2 separate regions of the Homo sapiens genome follow, and region 2 is linked to region 1. The links come from fine-mapping of genetic effects on gene expression. A gene starts in region 1. The other region holds a variant in brackets. All regions are shown on one strand. Distances are from middle to middle. Region 1 holds the start of TCFL5 (transcription factor like 5). Region 2 overlaps COL9A3 (collagen type IX alpha 3 chain).

The links.
Region 2: its variant is fine-mapped to the expression of TCFL5 in monocytes (TOPMed, PIP above 0.99).

What each region holds. Positions count from the first base shown.
Region 1 is chr20:62,856,390-62,867,662 of GRCh38, forward strand. It overlaps TCFL5 (transcription factor like 5), which reads right to left and starts at 5,433. Exons shown (of 6, transcript NM_006602.4): 1 at 4,635-5,433; 2 at 3,736-3,919; 3 at 2,975-3,137; 4 at 1,006-1,249. The coding sequence starts at 5,281. LOC105372717 (a long non-coding RNA gene) reads left to right here and starts at 5,046. Exons shown (of 4, transcript XR_936989.4): 1 at 5,046-5,152. RefSeq lists silencers at 4,852-5,001, 5,502-5,691, 5,742-5,841 and an enhancer at 5,226-5,880.
Region 2 is chr20:62,817,854-62,826,469 of GRCh38, forward strand. It overlaps COL9A3 (collagen type IX alpha 3 chain), which reads left to right. Exons shown (of 32, transcript NM_001853.4): 3 at 665-700; 4 at 1,369-1,440; 5 at 2,076-2,129; 6 at 3,328-3,363; 7 at 3,654-3,677; 8 at 3,904-3,957; 9 at 4,258-4,311; 10 at 4,738-4,779; 11 at 6,592-6,648; 12 at 7,115-7,168; 13 at 7,964-8,017; 14 at 8,351-8,404. Among named protein-coding and RNA genes, the nearest start is that of COL9A3, 5.1 kb to the left of the region's middle. RefSeq lists enhancers at 126-811, 812-1,499, 5,381-6,069, 6,070-6,757 and a silencer at 7,346-7,405. The variant C/G (reference allele first, on the strand shown) is at 3,058.

The sequences.
Region 1 (11,273 bases):
TCCTTCCCAGCAATCTTAAAAGAACCAGGCAATAGCCAGGAGCGGTGGCTCACACCTGTAATCCCAGCACTTTGGGAGGCCGAGGCGGGCAGATCACGAGGTCAGGAGATCAAGACCATCCTGGCTAACATGCTGAAACCCCGTCTCTACTAAAAAATACAAAAAAATTAGCCAGGTGTGGTGGCAGGCGCCTGTAGTCCCAGCTACTCAGGAGGCTGAGGCAGGAGAACGGCATGAACCCGGGAGGCGGAGCTTCCAGTGAGCAGAGATCGCGCCACTGCACTCCAGCCTGGGCGACAGAGCAAGACTCCGTCTCAAAAAAAAAAAAAAAAAAAAAGAACCAGGCAAAACTTGCTGAACTCAAGCTGGCTGGTAAGCAGCAGTTACCAAAACAGCCTGACCACTCTCCTCAGAAAGGCCTGCAGTCAGGGCTGGCCCTTAGTGGAGTCTGCAAACCTAGATTCAGGGAGTTAAGAGTGCCCCCAGAACCTACACTGTGCAAACGATATGGCTGACACTGAACAACTGCTTTCCTTCTGGGAGACTGGACTGTGGTTGCATGCATGGGGGCAGTGCCTACGTGACACGCCCCTGGTCTCTAGCGAGCTTTCCTGGTTGGCAACACCTCACCCACGTTTTCAGACCACATGGCTGGGGGCATGAGGGGCAACCTGCCTGACTCCACAGGGCGCGCTCTTAGAAGCTTGCACCTCAGCTCCTGCCTTCTCCCCACGCGCCTTTGCTGATCGCACCTGGCATCCTTTCTCCATAGTAAGTCACAGCCTGAGAGTGACTGCATGCGGAGTCCCGGGAGTCCTCCTAGTGAGCCAGCGAGCCTGGGCATAGTCTGGGGGATCCTTGATCCATCTGGGAAAGCTAACGATGCTCCTACCTGCTTTATTCCCTCTGAACGCAGAAACGGCTAAGGATCACTCATCTGTGATAACCATGTATGACTAAGGTAATCATATATGAGTCAGCCTGACAAGCAGTCACACGTATTACCTTCTATCTCTTTCCATTCGGTTATGCCTCTCCCTACGTTGAGACCTTCCTCCCTGGGGCCCACTCTGGGCCTGCTCCCCCAGGTTTGCCTGTGAGGACTCCGAGGACTGCCAAGCGCCTTGTGTGGCGGTGGCACCTTCGCCCACATTCTGAATCTCTCCAAGGGCTCTTCGCTCTACATTTGTGTCCAACTGACGCATTCTACTCCGATTCCTCTTCAGTGCTTGTTTGCATAGCGCTGCTTCTTTGCGAAAGAAGAAAAAAGTGGTTTTTAATTTTGTATTCTTATCTCAATTAATGCTGAATACAGTTTTGGCCTTTTCAATCCAAGATATAAACATTATTGGGTAAGCAGCACAGAGAACCGAAACACAAAGAGATGTACTAATGCAGTTTTTCAGCATCAGCAGGGACCATGAAGCCCAAGCCTATTTTATACAACGAAACTGAACAAGAATCAATCATCACACTAAATACGTTTTCCAAGTGCTATGCAACCAATATGACCTCATCCAAAGCCCCTCTTTTTAATTAACAGGTGTTATCTATGAATACAGAAAACAAGAAGTTGTTTACTTTTTCTAAAGGTCAGAATGGAAAAAAAAAAACAACAACAACAAACCACCTGGACATATTTCCTCCCAAAAATATTTTCTTTATATACAATTATTCTAAGAACAAGAAAAAAAAACAATTATTCTAATATGACAGTATTTTTACTGCAATGCTCAGAACAAAACTGCAGCAGCGTGTGTGTGTGCCCTCGCCGCAGAAGTGGCTCTCCTCCCCAAAGCAGGAAGAAGTAGCGTCCGAGCTTTTCTGCTGCGTGACAGGCTATGCCACGTGTGCGTCAGTGGAACTGTATCCATCAAAGGACCACAGGCACGTGACTGGCAGGCGTGCTCATGTGCACGCGTATGCCACACAAAGCACCCATTTCAGAAGGATGATGAAGCTTTCAGCAGGAGAGAGAGGAATTCGGTCGTTTTGGTGATATTTTATTCCTTAACCTGAGTAGTCGGCACAGAGGCTGCTTTAATACTCATCTTTGTATCTTACAAATGTGAACATATACTTTGGCATAAAATTTTATAGGGAGGAAAAGGAAGGACTGACATGGGAGAAGGCGGTAGCTCTTCCTCCCCATCTTGTCTTCACCAACTCTTGGAAAGCTAAGTGTAAGGAGTGTTCTTTTTTCGGGTCACTTCACAAATCAGTTTCCCAGGGAGGAAGGGGCTACGCAGGTGTTTCCCAGGGAGGAAGGGGCTATGCAGGTGTTTCCCAGGGAGGAAGGGGCTACGCAGGTGTTTCCCAGGGAGGAAGGGGCTACGCAGGTGTTTCCCAGGGAGGAAGGGGCTACGCAGGTGTTTCCCAGGGAGGAAGGGGCTACGCAGGTGTTTCCCAGGGAGGAAGGGGCTACGCAGGTGTTTCCCAGGGAGGAAGGGGCTACGCAGGTGTTTCCCAGGGAGGAAGGGACTATGCAGGTTAGCGCAGCAGTGCCTTCAGCAGTGACTTTATTTCCAAACTTTCCGAATCACCTTACAGCCTCTCCCTGGCAGCCCTAATAGGGTCCTCCTATTAGCAGCCACCTATCCAAAGGCTTTCGGCAGATGTTAGATGACTGCCTCACTCATCGAGTATAACATAAGGAAAATAAAAAACTATAAAGTACTTTCAGTAACTTGAAAATAACTGAAAATTTATGTAAGTCTATCACTTTACTGTTAAGAAAAAGCCCTCAAACGCAACGTTCTCACACCAAGATTAATTATGTTTGAGAATCAGAATAATGTTTAAAGCGAAAAGACAGGGAAGCGGGTGGACAGACCCCTGAGATACACAGACACCTCCAAGACTGTTTCACATGTGTACAAACCATCTGTCTCCCCTGCCCCCCAAGGCCAAAATGCCATCAGCCACAGGGCTCAGTCAGAAGAAAGCTCCCACTACCTGCTGCTTCATCGCTTACCTCCCACTTTAATCCAAACTTGCTCAGGCAAAACTTTGTTTCTACTACCTAACGTCTGTTTAGTGGATTCAATTTCTTGCTGATAACAGAAAGAAAATGCTCTAGGCAATCCAATATCCTGGTGCTTGGCAGCTTCAAGTACAGAACATGAGTTACTAGAACTCTGGAAAAAAATGAAGCAACAGGAATTTTATCAATATGTGGCTTACTCTCCTCTTTACTGCACAAATGAAATGCACTTAACAAACATCAAAACTACTAACACGTAATTTGAAGAACTTTAGTTGCACTGAAGATTTAAAAATATTCGCATACCACATAAACACTCAACTTTCACAGGTATTTTTTTGTTTTTGTTTTTTTGTTTTTTTTTTTGAGACAGGCTCTCACTCTGTCGCCCAGACTGGAGTGCAGGGTCGCGATGTCAGCCCACCACAACCTCCACCTCCCAGGCTCAAGCGATTCTCCCGCCTCAGCCTCCTGAGCAGCTGGGATTACAGGTGTCCGCCACTACCACCTGGTTAATTTTCGTACGGGGTTTCACCATGTTGGCCAGGCTAGTCTTGAACTCCTGAACTCAAATGACCCACCCACCTCGGCCTCCCAAAGTGCTGGGATTACAGGTGTCGGCCTTGGCGCCCGGCTTAAAAGGTTATTAAGCTCACTGAAGGGAAAAAAAAGTACTTGGGACCTAACCAAAATAAGTTAAAATTTACCCATTTAATACAAAAGAGCAAAGCTTCACAAATCATGTTCCCTACCTGTGTCTGTGAAAGATTAGAATTTCCACTAGTAGAGCAAGCATTTGTAGTAAACAGTGGGTATGTAAATTGCAAAGCAGTAGTTGTAGCCGCAGTTTTATTTTTCACTAATGCTGTACATTTGTTTTGTTGCTGAAGAGGAACATTCATTAGTTCAGATGGATGTCGAATGAGAGTTACCAAACTGCCAAGACAAAAGAAAGCCCAGAAGTGTCAGCAATACGTGGCAGACAAGCATCCACCATCCCACTCCCATGGCTCTGGCTAGTTTTTCCAGACAGCAACCCAACTCTCATCCTGGAAATCTCTACACAACAATTAGCAACTATCGCTGCTGTGGAAGTCCTCCTCTTCCTATGGAGGAAAAGCAAAACTGCGCCACCTCCCTGCTCTCATCACATCCTGACACCAATCTCACTTTTGCCATCCTCCAGTGTGACCACGATGGGCAACTACAGGCTGGGATGAGCAGAAAACTGCGGACGCAGCCCCTTCCACAGCCATCCCTGAGGGTCGCCAAGGGGGCGGCTGCAGGCTGGAGCCTCATTTTAGAGCTCAAAGCCTGCAAACCCCCGTCGGGCCTTCCTAGGCTTCCCTGACATCCAAGAGTGCCACCCGGAGCACATGGTTCCCAGGAATTCTGCGCGCTCGGCCCCACTCCAGGCGGGGCCACTGAGGGAGGGGGTGTTTAGTTTCTGGAAGTACCTGCTCCCCGGGGCCCGCACAGCGCACACAGCCTTTCGGGGCGGCCCCAGACCCGGTGAGGTCCGCGCCCTGTGCCGCCGGGAGGGCAGGCTGGGGGCGTGCACAGCGAGGGCCCCCTTTGCCTCCGCCCCGGCCCCGGCCCCGGCCTCGGCCTCCACCCGGGCCCCGCCAGCCCCCGGCCGCCGGGCACGCACTTGTTGAGCGCCCCGCCCGGCTCGGGGGGCTCGGGGCCGCGCGGCGCGGGCGGCGGCTCGGCGGGGATGCTGTTGAAGCGGTCCTCCAGGCGGACGCGCACGGCCGGCTTGGCCCGGGCCTCGGGCGCGCCGTCGGGTCCAGCCGCAGCCGCAGCCGCGCCCGCGCCCTCCTTGGCGGCGCCGTCGGCCCGGGCCCTCGCTCCGTCCCCGCCGCCCGACGTCTTCTCCGCCGCGCCCGCCTCGCTTAGCAGCATCATGCGCAGCTCCTGGAAGTCGATGTGGCCCAGGCAGGGCGCGTCGGCCGCCAGCGCGGACGGGCACAGCACGGGGTACACGGGCGCCGCGCCCCCCTGACCGCCCGCCGCGAAGCCGCCCGCGCCTGCGCCCGGGCCCGCCGCCGCCAGCAGCGCCGAGTTGAGGCGCGTCTCGAGCTCGCCGTCAGCCGCCGCCTCCATGTGCGAGCAGAGGATGTGCTGCAGCTGCGTGTACTCCACCTCCGTCATCTCCACCAGGCTCAGGTCGGTGGTCGTGAAGCTCAGCCCCGGCTCGCCCAGCGCCGCGTCCCCGCCGCCCGCGCCCTCGACGGCCGCCTCGCCGCCTGCCGCGCCTGCCTCCGGCGGCGGCTCCCGCGGTCCGGGGCCCGACATGGCGGCGCGGCGCGGCCCAACGGCGGCGAGGGCGACGCGGGCGGCGGGCGGCGGGAGGCGGGAGGCGGGAGGCGGGAGGCGACCCCCGGCCCGAGCACTACTCTGCGCCGGCCACAGCCGGCGCGCCGTTGGGGGAGGGAAAACCGCTGAGTGCCGCGCACAGCGCCTGCGCCGCCCCGCCCCGCAACGGCAACCCCACCCCTGCGCCAGCCCCGCCCCCTCCGTTACCCGCCGCCGCCGGCCCCGCCCCCGCCCAACCGCCCGCACGCCCGGCCCCGCCCCACGTCGGCGGATGCTTGCGCGGAGGGCCCGCCCCCACGGCCCAGCCACGCCCCCACAGCTAGGCCACGCCCCCAGCTCAGGCCACGCCCGGTTCCCAGCCACGCCCCTGCTGCCCGGCCACTCCCCGCTGAGGCCCGGCGAGGGCGGCTGCGCTGGAATCAGCGTGATACCTACGCGGTGACACCCTGGGGAGAAGCCACGTCCGTGCGTGCACGTGCGCCCCATTACAGCGGCAGGAATGAAGACGTTGTCAAAACAGCTCCCTGGACCCACAGTCCACAGTGCCCAGGCCATCCGCTTCATCCGCGTAAAATGCGCAGCGCATGGCCGGGTTCTGTGGCTCATGCCTGTAATCCCAGTACTTTGGGAGGCCGAGGCAGGTGGATCAGGAGGTCAGGAGATCGAGACCAGCCTGGCCAACATGGTGAAACCCCGTCTCTACTAAAAATACAAAAATTAGCTGGACGTGGTAGTGCGTGCCTGTAATCCCAGCTACTCGGGAGGCTGAGGCAGGAGAATCGCTTGAACCCGGGAGGCGGAGGTTGCAGTGAGTCGAGATCTTGCCACTGCACTCCAGCCTGGGCAACAGAGCCAGACTTCATCTCAAAAAAAAAAAAAAAATGCACAGCGCGACGGTGGTGGTACATTCCCAGCGCTGGGCCCGCCTCCACCGCTGCATTCACCACCGGTCTCCTGTAGCAGTCAGCACACTGCCCCTCCCCCGCCTGCAGCCACTAATCTTCTGTGTCCAGGAGTTTGCCTAGGCTGGGCCTTCCCTGTTAAGGGAACTATGCAATATGTGGTCTTTAAGAGACTTATTTTTGCAATCTTGAAATAATTCCTGTACTTAACCTCTCACCCACATTCCCATCTCACTCAGTGGTTGTCTGTTCTCTGTCTAGGCATTAGGACACTTAAAGGCCTGTGACTTGCACATCGTCTTCTAAGCCGGGTCTGAATCTTTCGCTCATTTCATCACAGTTTAGACACAGACCAATATATTACAATGATTCAACGATGGGCTATGAAAGCTCAGCCATGCAAATCTAAACTCACACATGTATACATGAAAATAATATATCAGTTTTGGGCAAAACATCAGGTTTCAGAAAACACTACCAAGGAGGAAAGCAAGGACTTAAAACTCTCAAGGACATGGCAACAGAAGTCGTCTAACGTAAAACAGAGAGGGAAGGCTAAGAGAGTGAGCAGAGCATCAGTGAGCTGTGGGGCCGCTTCAAGCAGTGTGATTTGAAGTCCCCTGGGGGTGGAAGGATGGGGAGAAAGACATTTTAAGAAGTAATGATTGCCAGGTGAGGTGGCTCACGCCTGTAATCCCAGCACTTTGGGAGGCCGAGGCGGGCAGATCCCTTGAGGTCAGGAGTTCGAGATCAGCTTGGCCAACATGATGAAATCTCGTGTCTACTAAAAATATAAAAAATTAGCCAGGTGTGGTGGCATGTGCCTGTAATCCCAGCTACTCAGGAAGCTGAGGCAGAAGAATCGCTGGAACCCGGGAGGTGGAGGTTTCAGTGAGTAGAGATTGCACCACTGCACTCCAGCCTGGGAGACAGAGCAAGACGCTGTCTCAAAAAACAAAAACAAAACAACAAAAAAAAATAATGATTGAAAAGTTTTTTTAAAACTACAAACCTACAGACCCAAGAAGTTTAACATACCTCAAACTCAAGAAACATGAAGGAAACTACACCAAGATGGAAAGCAAATTGCTTTATTTATTTATTTTTTTATTTTTTGAGATGGAGTCTTGCTCTGTCTCCCAGGCTGGAGTGCAATGGCACGATCTTGACTCAGCACAACCTCTGCCTCCTGGATTCAAGTGATTCTCCTGCCTCAGCCTCCTGAATAGCTGGGATTATAGGCATGTGCCACCATGCCTGGCCAATTTTTTGTATTTTTAGTAGAGACGGGATTTTGCCATGTTGGTCAGGCTGGTCTTGAACTCCTGACTTCAGGTGATCTGCCCACCTTGGTCTCCCGAATGCTGGGATTACAGGCATAAGCCACCGTGCCTGGCCTCAAATTGCTTTAAATCAGTGAAAAATCTTAAAAGCAGCTGTACACACACACACACACACACACAAGACATTGTGTACAGAGGAACAAAGATAAGAATGATTACAGGCCAGGCGCGGTGGCTCACGCCTGTAATCCCAGCACTTTGGGAGGCTGAGGCGGGCGGATCACAAGGTCAGGAGATCGAGTCCATCCTGGTAAACATGGTGAAATCCCATCTCTACTAAAAATAAAAAAAAATAGCTGGGTGTGGTGGCACAGGCCTGTAATCCCAGGTAACTCAGGAGGCTGAGGCACGAGAACCGCTTGAACCTGGGAGGTGGAGGTTGCAGTGAGCCAAGATCACGCCACTGCCCTCCAGCCTAGTGACAGAGCGAGAGACTCCTTCTAAAAAAATAAATGAAAAGATTGCAGTGATTGCAGACATTTCTTCAGGAATAATGCAAGTCAGAACAGAGTGGAATCACACCTTTGAAGTGCTGAGGGCAAGGGAGAAGCTGACTGATAGTGTCAGGCGTCTGTATTCACAGGCTCTGCGTCTGTGGATTCAACCAAGGATCAAAAATACTCAGAAAAAAATTACTTGCACCGAAATGCACAGACTGCTCTTCCTTGTCATTATTCCTTAAACAATATGGTATAACAAGTATTCATTTAGCATGTACATCGCATGAGGTATTATAAGTAATCTCGATATGTATATATTTTAGAAACAGGGTCTCGCTCTGTCTCCCAGGCTGGAGTAGGATAATACGGTTATAGCTCACTGCAGCCTCGACCTCCTGAGCTCAACCAATCCTCCTGCATGACTCTGCCGAGTAGCTGGGACCACAGGCACACACCACCATGCCCTGCTAATTTTTATTTTATTTTATTTTTTGTAGAGATGGTATCTTACTATGTTGCCCAGGCTGGTCTTGAACTCCTGGCCTCAAGTGATCCTCCCACCTCAGCCTACCAAATTACAGAGATTACAGGTGTGAGTCATCACGCTCGCCGCTACAGATGATTTAAAGTGTATGGAAGAATGTGCATAGGTTATATGGAAACACTATGACATTTTGCATAAGGGACTTGAACATTCGTGGATTTTGGTACCCATGGCAGGTACTGGAACCAATCCCCCAGGGATACTGAGGAATAACTGTAGTTCTATGCCCAGCAAAGATATTTTTCAAAAACAAAGGCAAAATAAAGACTTTTTTGCACTTACAAAAGCTAAAATAATCCATCACTAGCAGACTTGCAGTACAAGACATGTTCCAGAAGTCCTTCAGACAAAAGGAAGGTGAGACTGGATAGAAGTCGGGGTCTCCACAGAAGAATGAAGAGACTGGACGGGTTAAAGCTATTTATTACGAGCCTTACCACAACCACTGCAATACAGCAACAAAGGGTGATGGCTAATAAATCAATAAAGGAGAGAAAATGGAATCAGACTCTCAAAGGGGCAGAAAGTGAGATATGATTGTGCCACTGCACACCAGCCTGAATGACAGACCTCACCTCTAAAGTAAATAAATAAATGATACAAAAATTAAAAATGCAAGAGGCAGAAAAAAGAAAAATAGAACAAAGAGCACACGGGACAAATAGAGAATAAATAGCAAGATAGTAGATTTAAATCCAATAAAAAAAAATCACATGAGATGTAAAAGGTTTAAACACGTCAATGAGAAAGCAGAGACCAGAATGGATAAAAAGTCAGAACTTGGAGGCCGGGCGCGGTGGCTCACGCCTGTAATCCCAGCACTCTGGGAGGCCGAGGCGGGCGGATCACAAGGTCAGGAGATCAAGACCATCCTGGCTAACACGGTGAAACCCCGTCTCTACTGAAAAATACAAAAAATTAGCCAGGCGTGGGGGCGGGCACCTGTAGTCCCAGGTACTCGGGAGGCTGAGGCAGGAGAATGGCGCGAACCTGGGAGGCGGACCTTGCAGTGAGCTGAGGTCCCAGCTCTGCACTCCAGCCTGGGCGACAGAGTGAGACTCTGTAAGTCAGACCTTGGAGTGCCCGTAAGAAACTCATTTTAAAGAGAAAGGATGGAAAGTGCGCACCTCCCTAGCGCTGTCGAAAGGCAGCTGGAATAGGCATATAAACACTAAAGTCAATTTCCAGGAGGCGGGTCTGAAGAAAAAGAAGAAAACAAATACTAAAGTAGATTTCAGAGCCAAGAATTTTGCCAGCGATTCTGGTCATTTCATAGTGAAATAGGGGGCAGAACATTTTCCTGATTAAATGCATCTAATTAGAAAGCTTAAAAATACATGGAGCAGGGCCGGGTGCAGTGGCTCACACCTGTGATCCCAGCACTTTGGGAGGCCGAGGCGAGCGGATCACTTGATGTCAGGAGTTCGAGACCAGCCTGGCTAACATGGCAAAACCCCATCTTTACTAAAAATACAAAAATTGGCTGGGCATGGTGGTGTGCGCCTGTAATCCCAGCTACTTGGCAGGCTGAGGCAGGAGAATCACTTGAACTTGGGAGGCAGAGGTTGCAGTGAACTGATATTGTGCCACTGAACTCCAGCCTGGGCAACAGAGCGAAACCCTGTCTCAAAAAAATAATAAATAAAAAATAACAAAACAAAACAAAACAAACCATGGAGCAGGCCGGGCGCAGTGGCTCACACCTATAATCCCAGCACTTTGGGAGGCCAAGGCGGGCAGATCACAAGGTCAGGAGTTGGAGACCAGTCTGGCCAACATAGTGAAACCCCATCTCTACTAAAAATACAAAAAAATTAGCCGGGCGTGGTGGCGTGAACCTGTAATCCAGCGACTCGGGAGGCTGAAGCAGGGGAATTGCTTGAACCAGAGAAATGGAGGTTGCAGTGAGCTGAGATTGTGCCACTGCACTCCAGCCTGGGCGACAGAGGAAGACTCCATCTCACAAAAAAAAAAAAAATTCTGGGCACGGTGGCTCACGCCTGTAATCCCAGCACTTTGGGAGGCTGAGGCAGGTGGATCACCTGAGGTCAGGAGTCCGAGATCAGCCTGACCAACACGGAGAAACCCCGTCTCTACCTAAAAAAAAAAAAAAAAAAAAAAAAAATTAGCTGGGCATGGTGGCGCATGCCTGTAATCCTAGCTACTCGGGAGCCTGAGGCAAGAGAATCTCTTGAACCCGGGAGGCAGAGGTTACAGTGAGCAGAGATTGTGCCATTGCACTCCAGCCTGGGTGACAGAGTGAGACTCCGTCTCAAAAGAAAGAGAGAGAGGAGAAAGACAGAAAATCAGAAAGGATGCAGAAGACCTGGACAATGCCATCAACCAACTTGCTCTAGTTGATGTTTATAGAACACCCCAACCACCCACATCAGAATACAGTCTTTTCAACTGGATAGGTAACATCTACCAAGATAAACCATAATTTGGACCATAAAATATGTCTCAATAAATTTAAACTTTAGAAAAATATGTCCTCAACCACGACTGAATTTAATTTCAAATCTAATGTAAAGATATTTGAGATATTGTAAATCTCCGAACATTTGGCAACTAAATAATACATTTCTAAATGTCTCACGGGTCAAAGAAATCAAAAGGGAAGTTATAAAGTATTTAGAAATGAGCAAAAATGAAAACGACAACATCAAAATTCATGGAATATAGCTAAAGAAATACTTAGAAAAGTATAGCAATCACAAAAGAAGACAAGTATCAAATTAT
Region 2 (8,616 bases), 40 kb before region 1:
GAATGCCGGCACTGAGGTGTGTGTCTCTGGGTCCCCTGAGGGGCCCGTGCCCCTGTGTTCGGGGTTCTGGCCTCTGGCTGAAGTGGGGAGAGGCACGTCCTTTGGGTGGTTGGGGGCCGGGGGTCTTGTTGGAGGCTGCTGGGCTCTGGAGCCAGCCATGGAGGGGGCTTAGGAGCCGACTCAGTCCTGAGATGATGTCCCCTATGGGTATCTCAGGACTGGTGTGGGCCAAGCAGCAGGAGGAGGCGGCTGAAATTCTACAATTGTGCCTCCCTCGGAGGGACCGTCTGGGGTGAACCTCCCCATGTGACCACCACCAGGGCAGGAGTCCCCTCAGGGCCTGTCCACGCTGTGTGGTCCCCGTGGAGGGCTGTGGAGGGCTGCACCAAGAGCCCCCCATGACCCACCCTCTGCCCCCCTGCCCAGCTCGGCCTCAATGGCCACAGCCTCCTTCCAGTCTGTCCAGTTCACCCCTTTGCCCAGTGCTGCCCCACACATGGGAGGGTGCCCTCTAGGTAGGGATCGGGGGCTCAGGGGCCCCTTTTGTCTGCTGGGGCTGGGCCTCTGGGGCTGATTTGGAGGCCAGCGCTGCTCTTTTCCCCGAGGCGGGGTTCTTGAGGGACCCCTGATTTTCAGGGTTACATGTGGGTGTCTTTCCTCACAGGGAGAAGCTGGTCCTCCAGGTCTGCCTGGGCCCCCGGTGAGTGTCCCTGGCTGGGGAGACAGCCTTTTTCCAGTCTGGAGAGAAAGGGGGAACTCAGAACAGAGGGGTCATTGATATCCTGTCTCATCCTGCCGGAGCCCGGGTTGCCTGAGGGGAGGCCTCAGAGGGCTTGGAGCAGGCCTGGAGCCAGCGGGGCGGGAGGGGAGTGTGTGGGCTCAGCCTCTGCATGTTCAGGGCAGGGCCTGGCTTTGAAGCTTTCTTTGGACCAGCGCCAGGCAGGCCGGGACCGGGGCTGGTACAGCCCTTCAGGTCCCCCAGGCCTGAGGTCACCTGGAGCCCTCCCACCTTCTTCAGTTCCAGGGGTTGAGGGTCCTGGGGCTCAGAGCCCTGTCTGGGCCCACTGGGGGTCCGACAGAGATGCCTGCTGGCCCTTAGCCAGGGAGGCCGAGGTGACCAGACGAAGGTCTTACAGATGCCACTGAGGGATGGGGCGGGCAGCCTTCCTGGGCCAGCAAGGTGTGGGCAAGCAGGACACACGTGCCCCAGCTGAGCCGGGTCTGCCAGACAGTAGGGGGGACCCAGGAGAGGGGCCCATCCCGTATGGTTGGGCTGGGGGGAAGTGGAAAGCATTTTGCTTCATTGCTGAAGGCCTGGGCTCCAGGCCAGACCCCGCCTTCACATCTCTGCCCTTTCCTCCTGCACAGGGACCAAAGGGGGCCCCAGGAAAGCCGGGGAAACCAGGAGAGGCTGGGCTGCCGGGACTGCCGGGTGTGGATGTGAGTGCGCCTGCCCCTCCCCGCCATGCCCCACTCCCCGCTCCGGGTCCCTGGAGGAGTCCGGCCCTAATTGCTGTTGTCCAGCTGGGCCTGCTCAGGCGGGAAGCCCAGTCCTGAGAGAAGTCTCCAGAAGTCCCCAACAGGGGTCCTTTGGCCTTCATCCCAGACGCCACCAGCATCTGGCAGGGGACAGAGCCAGCCCAGTGGAGTCGGAAGTCCCGCCAGCCCTCCTTGCTTGTCCAGGAATGAGTGCCCATTGTCAGGACCTTCTGCCCACTGCTGGCCTCACTTAGTCATCTTGGGCTCCAGGCCTGGCCCCAGGGCCACGGAGTTTTGTTCGGAGGAAGCCGGGCCTGAGAAGTGAGCTGTCCAGTCCTGCTGGGTTGGTCCCCGAGGCCTGACTACAGCAGGTGCCTCCGTTGCTGGCTTCCCGCTGGCTGCCCCCTCCCTCCTCCCAGAGCCTCTGGCTACAGCAGGCAGACAGTGGACAGGGCCAAGAGAGGAGGCTGCCACCCTAAGGGTCTTCTATGCCTCTCTGGACTCACCAAGGGAAGGGTCCGTGCTTCCATTTTTGCCTGGGGGGTGGCATGTGCTTCCCATGTGGCCCCTCGAGCTCGCCCTCTGCCTCTCCCCAGGGTCTGACTGGACGAGATGGACCCCCTGGACCCAAGGGTGCCCCTGGGGAACGGGTAAGTGCCTGCGCCGAACCCAGTGGCTTGGGTTCAGAGGTGAGGTCCCCTGGCCACCTCTGGCTGCTCTGTGTCCACAAGGCCAAGGAGCTGGTAGTTCCAAGGACAGCTGCCCTGCCCGTGCCTGGGGTGGAGGGGCAGAAGGGCAGGGTGCCAAGTGGCCAGTCCCCTGTGCCTGCCTCCCTGCCTCACCTCCACGTATGGTCAGAGTTGTCCTGGTATCCAGACCATGGCAGGGAGAAGGGGGATGGTTTGGGGGAACCCACCCCAGGTGCCTCCTCAGAATGTCCCTGAAGCCCCCAGGGCCCTGGGCAGACCACCACCAGGGACCCCCGGGCACGCAGCCTGCAGAGTCCCCTGTGCCTGCCTGTTGGACACTGAATCCTTTACCCTGACGGAGCGGCACCACCACCCAAGGGTGCCTTTCTCCCCTTGTGGCTTCTGAGTACAAACCCGAAGCCAGCATTCTCTCTTTGGCTTCATAAGACGTGGCTGTCAGCCAACCGGGTGCCACTGGCCCCAGGCGCAAAGCATCACAGAGGGCAGGAAGGCTGGGCTGGGGACACGAGGACACAGCCCTGCCCTTGGGACCCTTGGGAGCTCGTCAGGCATGAGGCGGATTCTGAGCTGAAAACAGGAGGGAAACAGTAGCTGCTGGCAGCCGAGTCCGTGGTGCCCAGGGGTGTGGGGTGGGCTGGTCCCCAGGCTTTCAGGAGGGGCCTCCAGCCTCAGCACAGGGCCCGTGCGTGCCGTCCAGGGAATGAGGCATTTCAGGCAGCAGGGGCCAGACAGGGCCCAGAGGGTGTGGAGGGCAGACAGGGCCTGGCTGCCCAAGGCTCTGGGGCTCGCTGACGTGGGCGGGGGCTGAGGACTCAGCAGGCTCCGTGGGTGGGTTATCGGGAGGGCTTCCTGGTGGAGACAGGCACCC[C/G]GGGTCACTTCGGTGCCTCTCAGCCCTGCCTCAGGTTGCACCTTCTTGCAGCGAGCGCTGGGACTCTGGTGCCATCTGTCTCCAGCAGCTCCCCAGGACGGCAAAGACCCTCCAGGTCAAGAGGGCTCAGAGGCCCTGCCCCTCTGTGAAGTGGGGACTTGGACCCTGTTGTCCTGGGAGTTGGAGTTGTGACGTCACACTTCAGAGGGAGGGGATTGGGTTTGCAAATAGAGGCCCAGCCCAACCTAGACGCCTGCTTTCCTCCCACAGGGAAGTCTGGGACCCCCGGGGCCGCCCGGGCTGGGGGTGAGTATGGAGTGTGGTCCTCTCCTCTCCATGGGAGTTTGGGGAGCTGGAGAGTCTGGTCTAAATGGGGTGGCCTCCAGGAATCCCAGGGACCATCCCTGGCCCTCTCATCTGCAGCCTCTCCGGAGGCTGGTGCCTGGATGGGGTCCTGGTGCCCTCTCTGGGCTGGGACCAGACACCCATCCCTGGAACCGCCCTTTCCCCAGGACCCACCTGAGCCATCTTAGGGAGGGGTGAGGCGCAGCCCTTCTTGTGCCTGGCAGGCTCTGACCCCATGTTTGGCTTTGCAGGGCAAAGGCCTCCCTGGACCCCCCGTGAGTACTGACAACCCTTGGGGCCCTGAGCAAGCACGCAAGTCCCGAGAGCCTGCCAGGCTGGGATGTCCCAAACCGTGCCTGGGGGTGGGGCTTCTCAGGGGCAGCCATCTGACCACCCCATACTTGGAGCCCCTCTCCCTTCGGAGGCGGCACACCAACCCTGGGTGGGGATCCTCGGGGCTTCCGGGTGCAGACCTCCCCACCTCTCTTTACTTCCCTCCAGGGAGAGGCAGGAGTGAGCGGCCCCCCAGGTGGGATCGGCCTCCGCGGCCCCCCGGTGAGTGGCTGTCCCAGAGCCCCTCAGAGTGTGCTCACCTGTGGCCTCCACCCCCAGACTCAACAGCCAGGGGCTCCCTTCCCCTCTCCCTTTTCCCTTTCTCCCCCAACCCCACCTTGGTGGGTGTTGGTAGAAGCCCTGGCCAATGATCCAGACCCGACCTCAGGACGCAGACACCAGCACAGTCCGTGGGAGTGGGGGCTGGTGGGAGCTGGGCGTGTCCACCTCCCTGGGAGAAGCCGGGCACCTCACTCAGGTGGGGGCTGGTCCCACTCTGTCTAAGTCATACCCCCTCCCCAGGGACCTTCTGGACTCCCCGGCCTCCCTGGTCCCCCAGGACCTCCCGGACCCCCTGTAAGTACTGGGCAGAGGCTCTAAGAAGTGCTGGGCATGGACTAGGACACTGGGTTGGACCCTCCCCATTCCCCCTCCCCAGGCTCCATGCCCCTCCGAGATCTCCTAACCCTAACTTGGCCACTCCCAGGAACAGTCAATGGTGGGGGCAGTGGCTGTGGCTAGGCCAGCCAACTTGGGGATGGTCAGGACTCAGGTCCCCATGGCCATCCTGCCCCAAGGACAGGTGGATTCTGTCGTTGTCACATGCCCTGTGGGTGGGCCAGCAGCTCCCAGCACTGGCCACTTGGGGGACAGGATGAAGGGTCTCCAAGTCCCCTGGTGGATGGGGAAGGTTGTGGTCCGTCAGAGAGTGGGTGGGTGGGTTGGGTGGCTGCAGGTGGCTGGGGAGGGCGGGAGAATGTCAGCTGTCTCTTTTTGTCTTAGGGACACCCAGGAGTCCTCCCTGAAGGCGCTACTGACCTTCAGGTAGGCACTTGAAGCCATTTGTTAAGGGTGCTGGGGGGTGCCTACCTTGGGGGGAGGGGTTCTGGCCTGGAGAGGGGCTTGTCCATACTGGCAAGAAGGCAGGGCCCGAGCCCTCCCTGGGGACAGGAGCTCAGAGCAGACAGCTCGGGCACAACCTGGCAGAGAGGCTGGCTGGGACCTCCCCCTCCCCCTTCCCACCCTCCTCACCACCGTCTAGACCTGCACTGTCCCTCATGAAGCCACCAGGCGCATGGAGCTGTACAAATGTAATGAATCACAATCATGTCACAGAGCCATCCAGCTCCCCTGCGTCATCCGCAGAGGGCGCCCTTGGCCACAGATGGCGACAGAACTGGAGTCTGGGACCCACCTTTATCTTGATCTTTGAGCCTTGTCATTTGCCTGAAAAGAAAACAGGCTCAGGTCAGGCGCAGTGGCTCAGGCCTGTAATCCCAGCACTTTGGGAGGCCCAGACAGGAGGATCGCTTAAGCTCAGGAGTTTGAGACCAGCCTGGGCAACATAGTGAGATCTTTGTCTCTACAAAAAATTGTTAAAGTAGCCAGACGTGGTGGCGTGCCTGTTGTCCTAGCTACTTGGATGGCTGTGGTGGGAGGATCACTTGAGCCCAGGAGGCAGTGGTTGCAGGGTGCTGTGATCAAGCCACTGCACTCCAGCGTGAGCAGCCAAGCTCAAGCCTGTCTCAAAAAAATGAAGAGGAAAGAAAATGGGCTTCGGAGGCCACGGATCCATCTCTCCTCTCTGTTTGGCCGTCCGTGGTGGCAGTCAGCGCCTTGTTTCCATAGAGAGGTTTGATAGTTTTGAAGGGAAAAGCTCGGCCCACTCTGACCTGACCACCGACGCTGTCTACCAGCCTCTCTCCTCACCCCACCCCGGGGCCTAGGTGCCTGGCCAGCCTGTGTCCCAGAAGGGAGGCTTTAGGGAACCTTCCAGAATGTGGTGCGTGGTTGGGCCCCCGATCGTGGGCTGAGTGGGGCAGGGGCTGAAGATACGGGTCTGCACCCTTGGCCTGGCCTGCCCATTGCAGCTGTAGGATCATCTAGAAGCAGCCCTGGGTTTCCTGAGCATCAGACCTGTTGCCTGGGCTCACAGTGCCCCTCCTAAAAGCCCCATGCCGAGCACATTCCTGTGCTGAGGATGGGCCCGACCTGAGGCTGCTGCAAGGCCCCCTGCAGTGCCGGCCGGGACTGTGCTGAATGGCTGCTTTGATAGCCAGTGTCTGCCGTGGGGCCGGCTGCTCCATGCAGCCCCTGCTGCACTTGGCCAGTGCTGAAGGAGACCCTGTCTGTGTCCTGTCCCAGTGCCATCACCTGTACGGAGTGGCCTCCTGGGGTCCCGTCACTGTGTGGAGTGGCCTCCTGGGGTCCCGTCACTGTGTGGAGTGGCCTCCTGGGGTCCTGTCACCCAGAGTGTCCCGACACCCGCGCGGAGTGGCCTCCTGGGGCCCCGTCACCCACGCGGAGTGGCCTCCTGGGGTCCCGTCTCTGTGTGGAGTGGCCTCCTGGGGTCCTGTCACCCAGAGTGTCCCGACACCCGCGCGGAGTGGCCTCCCGGGGCCCCGTCACCCACGTGGAGTGGCCTCCTGGGGTCCCATCATCTGTGCGGAGTGGCCTCCTGGGGTCCCGTCACTGATGCGGAGTGGCCTCCTGGGGTCCTGTCACCATGAGGAGTGGCCTCCCGGGGTCCCGTCACCGTGCAGAGTGGCCTCCTGGGGTCCCGCGGGCGCTGACCCCTGCGTCGGACGTCCTGCTCTGTTTGGCTGGGAGGGGTCTGACTGCTCTGTTTTCCGACAGTGCCCAAGTATCTGCCCGCCAGGTCCCCCAGGGCCCCCTGGAATGCCAGGGTTCAAGGTGAGTCACGGGTGACTGGGACCCAAGCACCACCCTGTGCTGGGCAGGAGGCAGCTGGGCTCCCATGGGGCTGTGGAGGTGGCGGGTCCAGAAAGCTGGACCCTGGTTCCAGGGTTGCCCCAGGAAGAAAGCTAGGCCAGCCTCCTTGTCCCGCCTTCAGCACCCCAGTGACACGCTGATGTGGCCAGGCTGGGACTGGCCATAGGCGTCAGAGACTGCGGGGGAGAGCTAGCCTCAAGCTCCCACCCCAGCCCAGCCCTGGCCCGCTCCTGACCGCAGAGCGCCCTCATGTGGGTCCTAGCGCCTCTCAGGCCTCAGTTTCCCCATGAGGGCCCAGACCCGCGGTCCTGTGCGCTGCCGTGTGGCGGGCCCTGGGCTGACTGACCCTGCAGGCCTCACTTCAGTGTTGCCAGGGAGGGGGTGTCGGGGGGTCTGGGTGGGGCAGTGACCCCACATTTGCTTGCAGGGACCCACTGGCTACAAAGGCGAGCAGGGGGAAGTCGGCAAGGACGGCGAGAAGGTGAAGCTGCCGCACAGCAGCTGGGGAGGAGCTGGGGACTGGAGGCTGGGCTCCGGCGGGAGGGAGGGGCTGGGCTCCGGCGGGAGGGAGGGGCTGGGCTCCGGCGGGAGGGAGGGGCTGGGCTCCGGCGGGAGGGAGGGGCTGGGCTCCGGCGGGAGGGAGGGGCTGGGCTCCGGCGGTGGGGAGGGACCGTTTCATGGGTGCACCTGCACTGGCACCTTCTGTGCCTGTCTTCCAGACAGGGCCTGGCTGGTCAGAGCTGGGTGATTTAGGCAGGGTCCCTGGACAGACCCCGTCCTGCCTGGCCTCGCTGTGGAAGCTCCCTGGTTTGTGTCTGTGGCCGGGGCGAGGGGCATCTGTGAGGATGGCTGGCTTTAGCCTGTAGCCTCCCCTCACCTGTGGTCGCTGTCCGTGGAGGGTGTCTGTCCATGGTCACCTGCAGGCCGGGGGACCAGGTCTGGGATGCCCTTTAGCGTGGCTGGAGTGATCAGATGAGGAGACCCCAGGTGCACATCAGAGGGGTCCCTGCTTGGCCACGAGGAGGGGCCTGGACAGGGCTGAAGGGCCTTGTGGGAACAGTGACCACGGACCCCGGCCCGGCAGGGCGAGGCCACCGAGACTCGCGGGACTGCTCTGGAACTGTGGGCAAGTGTCCCCTTCACAGAGCCTCCAAGGCCCAGCTGTGAAGGGGGCAACACCCCCAGCTGCTTGGGCTTGAGTAGGGTGACTGGAGGCACCGAAAGGTGCAAGGAGAGCCAGACTGGGCCGCTGACCACCCTATCCCCTCTGTTTCAGGGTGACCCTGGCCCCCCTGGGCCCGCCGGCCTCCCGGGCAGCGTGGGGCTGCAGGTGAGGCTAGGAAGGGGTAAGGATGGTGGGATGGGAACTCAGCCCACAGAGTGATCAAGCCCTGCACATATCTACCCCCGAGGGGGCCAGCTCCGGCTGGGGGGTGTTTGGCCAACACCCAGGCACAGGAGCGCGACCTGGCTGGGGGTCCCACCTCTGCCAAGGCTGCTGACCTCAAGGCTGGTGCCCCCTCCCTCTGGGGGACCTGAGCTGAGGCTGAGGGCTCATGGAAGACACCAGGGCTCCCAGGGGTACCCCGAGGGCCTTGGCCCTGGGTGCTCCCCGGGGTGGAGGTGCAGCCCCAGCCTCTGCATCTGTGCCTCTCTCTCGCAGGGCCCCCGGGGATTACGAGGACTGCCAGGGCCACTCGGGCCCCCTGGGGACCGGGTAAGTCCTGCAGCCCCTAGTGGGGGCCGGCCAGGTGGCTGGGGGCCTGGTTGTCTGCACCTCCAGACTTCAGATGGGCCCCGTGAGTGACACTCTGAAGCAGCCGGCACCCTGGCTCTGGCCATCGCCACTGTGGCGCAGGCCTTGCTCTGGGCCCCTGTTCTCGCATGTGCCTGGGCGAGAGCTGACAGTCGGCGCTCACTGATGCCCGC